Homo sapiens: one gene and its partner. The protein of the gene in region 2 interacts with the protein of the main gene of each other region in a pairwise test. Each region holds a gene or a part of one and is shown on either strand. Other genes may lie near its edges.

Region 1 (4,202 bases), on a different chromosome or scaffold from region 2:
TAAATGTGCAAAGGTATGTAAGGCAATCGGGAGTACTGGAGACTGGGGTAGAACTGGAGAATTTAAGTTTCCCCGAAAGGCGTTCAAAGTAAAACAATTCTAAACTTTGGTGGTTTAATAAAACATGCTTGCACACTAAACTCCCAGCAGCCAGTTTATAAGCTCTAGTTTAATGATCCGTGCAGAACTCTAAACTGCACTCAGACAGATGCAAAATCCTGTCTTTCAATGACACCACGTTGGAAATGATACTAGGCTGAGAAAACACCATTTAGGTGTTGGTAATGCCCACCCTGGGGAATGGGAATCTGGTGAAGCTGGCCCTCTGGGCAAGCCCCACTACCTGAGTGCAGGCTCATGTGCTCCAGCAGTGAGTGCTTGGTGGTCAGAGCCTTGCTGCACACGGTGCAGGTGTACGGCCGCTCGCCTGTGTGCATCCTGGTGTGGACCTGTAGCGAGTGCTTCTGGGCAAAGCCTTTTCCACACTCATTACATTTGAAAGGTCGCTCCCCTGGAAGAAGAGCCCCAGAAGCATGGTATAAGTAAGAATCCACACATTTTTCTGTCTCTCCCAAATTAAAAAAACAATAAAGGATTTTTCTTAAAAGGCACACATCCAAAAGGCCAACAATGAACACAAGAGACATCAGCAATAAAATTTTGGAAGCTGAACAGATGAATCTGAAGCCAGCAGTGAGTAGCACTAACATAACCTAATTTTTTGTTTTTCCTTTGTAACAGGGTCTCACTCTATCACCCAGGCTGGAGTGCAGTGGCGCTACCATAGCTGACTATAGCCTCAACCTCCTGGGAACAAATGATCTTCCCACTTCAGCCTCCTGAGTAGCTGGGATCACAGGCATGTGCCACCACTACACCCAGCTAATTTTTTAATTGTAATTTTAATTTTTTTTAGAGATGGGATCTCACTATGTTGCCCAGGCAGGTCTCCAACTCCTGGGCTCAAGCAATCTTCCTGCCTCGGCCTCCCAAATTGCTGGGAGTACAGGCATGAGCCACCACACCCAGCCCAATACAACCTAATTTTTAAGACACAATCTCCTAAGGCTCAGGAATTGGTGGCACCTGCTATCTCTGGAAACAGGGGTGAGGGAGGGTAAATGAAAGTCTGTTTCAAAGGTGCTTAGACCCCTGATCAAATCTTCCACTCTACACAGCCAGGAGACTGTCCCTCCCCCAAAAGAGAATGGAGAGTGTTCACTGAGGAGGGTTAAGAAAAAGGGGTCTTTGGATTAGGAGTTTCTAGGCACAGTTGAGTTGGGATCACCACAGGGAGAGTAAGTCAACATTTCCATCTGGGATGATGAGACTCCCCCACTCCTTCTTCCCCATCCTGTCCTAGACACAGGCCAGCAGCCAGGCCTAGTGCCTCCAAGTGGGAGAGCAGAAGCGTCTTCCAGTGGAACATGAGAGGTCCAAGGTGAGAGAGCAAAGATGTGGAAGCCAGGCACCAGTAAGGACATGGGGCACAGCCACACCACCTCCAGTGAGGTTATGACAGGCCTCCATACAACTGTTTCAGTACTGACTGAGTGGTTAAGTTAAACATTAAAAGCCAGTGCCCTTAAACAAAGGCTGGAATGTAACAAAAGCCCACCAAGAGTTTCCCCTAGGCTTCTCCTGGGCCTTAAAGCATGACAAAATAACGAAGGAATTCTTAACAGGGCCCACTTAGGATTAAACAAGTTTTACTGGGGATCTGAAGGAACTCCCCAAATCTCCGTGATTTAGCAGAAGATAAGGGTAATCACCCCAGCACCTAGACCCATTTAGATTAAGTAAACTTACTGAGGCTCCAGAAGAAGGTCTTTGGGACGCAGACCTTGGATATAGATTAAAAGAAGTTAATCACCTACGTCTTTAGAGGAATGCACACTTACAGACAGACATACAGCTTAGGCGGTATATAAGCTCTGAAAAATTCTGTAATTTTGAGTTGGTCTGGCGATAATTTCCAGGCCTTCTCCCTATAACTGGTTACAGAAATAAAAACTCTCTTCCTCTCCAATTCATCTGCATCTCATTATTGGGCCACGAGAAATAGCAGCCTGACTCTCAGTGTGATCTGGGAACAAGGTCACAGTTTTACAGACTCTCTCATACAAAAAAAATTAGCCAGGCATGGTGGTGCGTGCCTGTAATCCCAGCTACTTGGGTGGCTGAGGCAGGAGAATCACTTGAATCCAGGAGGCGGAGGTTGTGGTGATCGGAGATCACGCCATTGCACTCCAGCCTGGGCAACAGCCTAAGAAATAAATAAAATACAGGCTCTCTCCACACATGCAGCATTGCCAGTAGCTTTTAGCAACCCACCCTTACATATGATTTAAAAAAAAAACACCAGGCACTCAAGGAGAGCCTTTTGTAATAGTGACAGACAAACAAGCAAGAAGAAAAAAAAAAGCAACTTGCCTCCAGTGAGGAAAATGTTGTTATCATTAACATGCTCATAGAGGTAAGATAATACATTGTGAAATAAAAAGATCATTCAAATTAAAACATTTAGAAAAAAAAGAGCTCCTAAAGGGGGAAAAAAATAAGAGTTGAAACAGAAAACCTCAAAGGGCTGAAAAACAAAGTGGAAATCCCCCAGAGGGTGGGGCCAAAAATGATGGAAAATATAAGAGAAAATAAAGTTAGAGAGAACAGAGAAAACAGAGAGGAGAAATCATCTATGAAATAACTCAAGATTTTCCAGAACTGAAAGACAGTTTCCAAACCTTATGAATCTACCTGTTATCTACCCAGATGGAAGAAAACAGACCCATACTAAAGTGATGGGCTGCAAAATTCAGAATACAGATGCTTCCTGACTTATGATGGGACTACATCTAACAAACCCATCATACTGAAAATATCATAAGGAAAAATGCACTTATACAGAGTACTGTATGAATGCACCAAATGCAGAGTACTGGTCATTTACCCACGTGACTGTGTGGCCCGGCATGGCATGAGAGGATCATACTGAATATTACTAGACCGGGAAAAGATCAAAACTCAGAATTCAAAGTACAGTTTCTGTTGAACATGTACTGCTTTCACACTATTGTAAAGATGAATTGAACCATTGTGAGTCGGGGACTGTCTGTACTGAGGACATAAGGGAAGAACGATCCTACATGCTTTTTCTTAAGTCTTGTATAATGATTTAACTCTAAACTATGCACATAAAATTTTTGATAAAAATAGCCAGCTGGGCGCAGTGGCGCACGCCTGTAATCCCAGCACTTTGGGAGGCTGAGGCAGGCAGATCACGAGGTCAGGAGTTTGAGACCAGCCTGACCAACATGGTGAAACCCCGTCTCTACTAAAAATACAAAAAATTAGCTGGGCGTGGTGGCGTGTGCCTGTAATCCCAGCTACTCAGGAGGCTGAGGCAGGAGAATCACTTGAACTCGGGAGGCGGAGGTTGCGGTGAGCCGAGATCGCGCCACTGCACTCTAGCCTGGGTGACAGAGCGAGAATCCATCTCAAAAAAAAAAAAAAAAAAAAAAAAAAAGCTAAAATATAACCTATTACAGTTCAACAAATATTTCTCAAGTATCCACTTTGTTCGAAGTACCTGAATTCAAGCTCTTCAACCTATCTGTAGCTAAAGTCTTTAGGGAGCTTTTAAAAGCACCAAGGCTCCAGACAACTAAATCAGAAGCTCTGGGGTGGAGGTCTAGGCACTGGTAGTTTTAGAAGCTCCCTAAGTGATTCCAATTTGCAGGCTGAGAACCACAGCACCAGATACTGCTGGATCACAGGAGAAGACTTAAGCCCCAGTCCCTATACTTAAGATTACAATTAAGTTGAGGGATATACAAGTGGTAACAACAATCTGATCCAAAGCAGAGTGGGTTTTAAGCACCTGAAAGGGCTCAAAGGAGGAAGGGATTTCTCACTAGGACTGCAGTGTCCAATACGGTAGCCACTAGCCACATGTGGTTATTCAAATTTAAATGAATTAAAATAAAATTTAAAATTCAGTTTCTCAGTCACGCTAGCCACAGTTCAAGTGCTCAAAAACCACATGTGGTTACTGGCCACCATATTGGACATCAGAGATGTAGGAACATTTCCATCATCACAGAAGGGTCCCATTGGTCAGCGCTGGGCTAGAGGGACCAAAAATGAGAAGGTATTTAAAGCTAGATAGCTGAGTTACAAAGTGATCTACACAGACTTGGGCAAAA
Region 2 (4,202 bases):
GTATACAGTAACCTCCTTGAGAGCAGGAAACATGTTTTCGTTCTTTTTAAATTAAATTAAATTTAATTTAATTAATTTATTTTTTTAATTTTACTTTACGTTCCAGGATGCATGTGCAGAATGTGTAGGCTTGTTACATAGGAATACATGTGCCATGGTGGTTTGCTGCCCCTATCAACCCGTTATCTGGGTTTTAAACCCTGTATGCATTAGGTTCTTATATTTATATAAGTGTAAACACTCAGCAAGTGATTGGTAAATTGTCACTTCAGTGTGTGTCTTCAGATGCGATTTAATAGTAAACCTTTCTATGTTGACTGCTGGGTTGTGTTCAGGAGGTTAGTGTGTTATGGCGAAATTGTAGTGAAACAAAAGCAGTAAATACGTTTGGGAACTTTATTCTTTTTTTTCTTTTTTTGAGATGGAGTTTTGCTCTGTTGCTCAGGCTGCAGTGCAGTGGCGCGATCTCGGCTCGCTGCAAGCTCTGCCTCCCGGGTTCATGCCATTCTCCTTCCTCAGCCTCCTGAGTAGCTGGGATTACAGGCGCCTGCCACCATGCCCACGTGGATCACGAGGTCAAGAGCTTGAGACCATCCTGGCCAACATGGTGAAACCCCGTCTCTACTAAAAATACAAAAATTAACTGGGCGTGGTGGCACGTGCCTGTAGTCCCAGCTGCTCGGGAGGCTGAGGCAGGAGAATCACTTGATCCCCAGAGGTGAGGTTGCAGTGATCTGAGATCGCGCCACTGCAGCCTGGTGACAAAGGAAGACTCCGTCTCAAAAAAAAAAAAGACTTGGAGGATTTATTTGTTTGGGGTTGATTTAGTTTTAGGTCTAATCTTTATGATTCTTATCTTATGTATTAATAAAAGAAAAATCTCTTTACATTTAATTCTGGCCTGTATCCTCAAAGGGCATGATTTGCTTCTTGCTTTTCTAGCATGGTATGTTAAATTATAAGACTCTTTGCCTCTTTAACTGTGCGCTTCCTTCCTTAGGAATCAGAGAAGATCATTGCTGAGTTGAATGAAACTTGGGAAGAGAAGCTTCGTAAAACAGAGGCCATCAGAATGGAGAGGTCAGGAGGTTAAAATCTGGAAATGTTTCTAAGTTTTCTAGGGGATGTGGATTACTTTATCGTAAGAAAAGATAAAATATAAATTAAAATCAAAGAGTCTGCCCTTCTAAAACACAAAACGAAACCAAAAAAATGGACAGGGATTTATGGCCAGTTGAATTTATGCTTTGAAATGACATCTACATATTTAAATATTATCTAGGGAGTCACAGGTTTATTAGTTACCATATTACATGTTGCTAGGGATTCATAAAAATGGAACATATTGGCCAGGCGCGGTGGCTCACGCCTGTAATGCCAGCACTTTGGGAGGCTGAGGTGGGCAGATCACGAGGTCGGGAGATCGAGACCATCCTGGCTAGCATGGTGAAACCCCATCTCTACTAAAAATACAAAACAAATTAGCCGGGCATGGTGGTGGGCACCTGTAGTCCCAGCTACTCGGGAGGCTGAGGCAGGAGAATGGCGTGAACCTGGGAGGCAGAGTTTGCAGTGAGCCGAGATGGTGCCACTGCACTGCAGCCTGGGTGACAGCAAGACTCTGTCTCAAAAAAAAAAAAAAGGAATAGCCTCTTCTTTTCTTTTTTATATTAATATGCATATCATTTATGAATTATTGACTATCCCAAAGTCAGTTGAGACAAAGTTCTTATCTCAGTGAATATAACTTTAACAAAGCAAGATTTCATTGATTTTGAATGTGATGTTGCTTTTAGAAATAACTTCTCATTAATGATGAGATAAGCACATTATTTTATGTTTGCATTATTGGCTATAAACATGGCCAGTTGTTTTTGCTTTGCAGGCTTTATTTTCCAATTCATATTAGACTGATTTAATTGACATTTTGGTATTAGTGTTCTGATATACCTGTTTTTTTCCTAGAGAGGCTTTGTTGGCTGAGATGGGAGTTGCCATTCGGGAAGATGGAGGAACCCTAGGGGTTTTCTCACCTAAAAAGGTAGGAAACAATGCTGTGAAACCTAATCAGACAGAGACACTTTTTGTTTGTCTTTGTTACTGGGGCACTTCATGTCTTTCAGGACCTACTCTCCCCCTTATTATCTTGATACTTGCCTTAATTTCAGATATTTCTGATTTCATCTTAGAGCATGGTCTTATAGTACAAAGGCAGCCTATTTCTAAAATGCCTATCTTGTTTACTGTTTACAAAAGAAAAAACCTAAGGCAATATGTAACCTTTGGCCATGATTCAGTTTGTTTAGTCATCTTTATTTGTTGCTTTCTCTTAAATTCCCAGCCTAACCTAGCGTACTTTCAGTTTTGGCTACTCTTTCATGTAGATTTTCCCACAGAAGTCGTCTACCCTGCTTTATAACTTTTTGGAACCAATTTCAGCTGTACAGGTTTGTGGAGAATAATACTGCTTCCATTTGCTTCTGCAATTTGTATTATAGACAGCCATTGTACTAAGTAAAGCAATTCCTGTCCCTATCCTTCTAGACTCCTCTGCTTCCTTCTTCATTTTTTAAAAAGTGTCTCCAATAGTTACCTTCCTTTTTACATAATCATAGTTATGAAGTAGTTACGTAGCTTTTAGCTAATTAGAGTAGTAAGGGTTTTTTTGTTTTTTTCTTAAACTAAGTTGCAACGTCTTGTTGGATACTAGAAAATGACTATCAAATGGTTATTTTGTGTGCTTATGTATCAGAAAATAGGAGAACATATATCGATGTACAAAGCATGTATTTTATGCCACTAGTAAATTGTCCTTTATTTCAAGTGACCTCACATTGGCTATTGGAGACTTAAACATCTTTATTCATAGGTTCTGTTGATGATCTCTCTAAGTTAGGATACAAGGGGTGGTGAGTTTTGAATTGGTACTTTTATGTGATATGAAATATTCCTGTGGTTTTCGCTACAATTCTTCTGGTCAGGTTTTTCTATCCTGGCCACATAACTTTTTTTTTTTTTTCTTCCCAAATTCCAATGTGTTATTTTCAACAGAAAAGACTGATGTAAAGACATTTTAGATGCATATTGTAGAATAGAACAGTTAAGTATTTTATATGTTTATATTATGAAAGGTTAGTGGTTTTCACAGTTTTAATAGTTTTTCCTTCAGTAAGACATGTATTCATTCAGATATGTTACTTAGGATTATATAGATTTTAGCAGTTACAGTTTTGGTGGAATTTAATTGTGCCTATGCATATGTCTAATAAAGGTATTTTATAACATCTTACAGTATTAAAGACTGTGAGGAAATTTTTTTTTTTTTTTTTTTTTGAGACAGAGTCTCACTCTGTCGCCAGGCTGGACTGCAGTGGTGTGATCTTGGCTCACTGCAACCTCCGCCTCCCGGGTTCAAGTGATTCTCCTGCCTCAGCCTCCCAAGTAGCTGGACTGCAGGCACATGCCACCACGCCCAGCTAAGTTTTGTATTTTTAGTAGAGACGGTTTCACCATGTTGGCCAAGGGTGGTCTTGATCTCTTGACTTTGTGATCCACCCACTTCAGCCTCTCGAAGTGCTGGGATTACAGGCATGAGCCACTGTGCCTGGCTGGAAAATTTTTATTATAACAACTAGTGAAAATATTATGCATTTAACATAAATCATAAATAACTTGAACAAATGTTGAGATGTACACTGCATGGAATTCCAAAGTGAGATCTCTGCTTCCAAAGCTTTTTCTTACTTTAATTTTACCCATCTTGCTTTAGCTTTCTAGACTTCTTCATGAAAGGAAGGGATATACCAGTGACCACATCCAAACTCAGTCTTAGGACCTGTTTCTGAGATTCCATTTTTCAAATTATGATGTGCTTTAAAGAATGCTACTCACAAAGGGCTTTGACTTTCTCAAACCAGTCAAGTTCTTCAACTACAAAGGGGGATGCTAGTTGAGAAGATGTGGAGGTTTTTCAGATTTCTCTTTAACCATCTTTTATAGTTCCTTTTCCTACCCCCTCATCTGACTCTTCTTTCATTCTTCCACATTTGCTGGCACTCTCTTGAGTAGATTTTGGCCTCAAGACCATGTGACTTATTTTTGGATTCCAGTGGGTTATTTTCACTAAAGAAGGTTGGTTTTTTAAAAAGATTTTAGAAATATTAGAGTTAGATGAAGAGGATTGTTAGAAGATGTTTATCTTA

Evidence for each region.
Region 1: the proteins of KIF1B (region 2) and ZBTB24 interact in binary tests that used the Homo sapiens proteins (3 or more experiments, as listed by UniProt).

What each region holds. Positions count from the first base shown.
Region 1 is NC_000006.12:109,476,420-109,480,621, forward strand, and holds part of ZBTB24 (zinc finger and BTB domain-containing protein 24), read right to left. Parts: intron 512-4,202; coding exon 344-511; intron 1-343. UniProt on the Homo sapiens protein: May be involved in BMP2-induced transcription.
Region 2 is NC_000001.11:10,290,082-10,294,283, forward strand, and holds part of KIF1B (kinesin-like protein KIF1B), read left to right. Parts: intron 1-1,000; coding exon 1,001-1,080; intron 1,081-1,965; coding exon 1,966-2,041; intron 2,042-4,202. UniProt on the Homo sapiens protein: Has a plus-end-directed microtubule motor activity and functions as a motor for transport of vesicles and organelles along microtubules.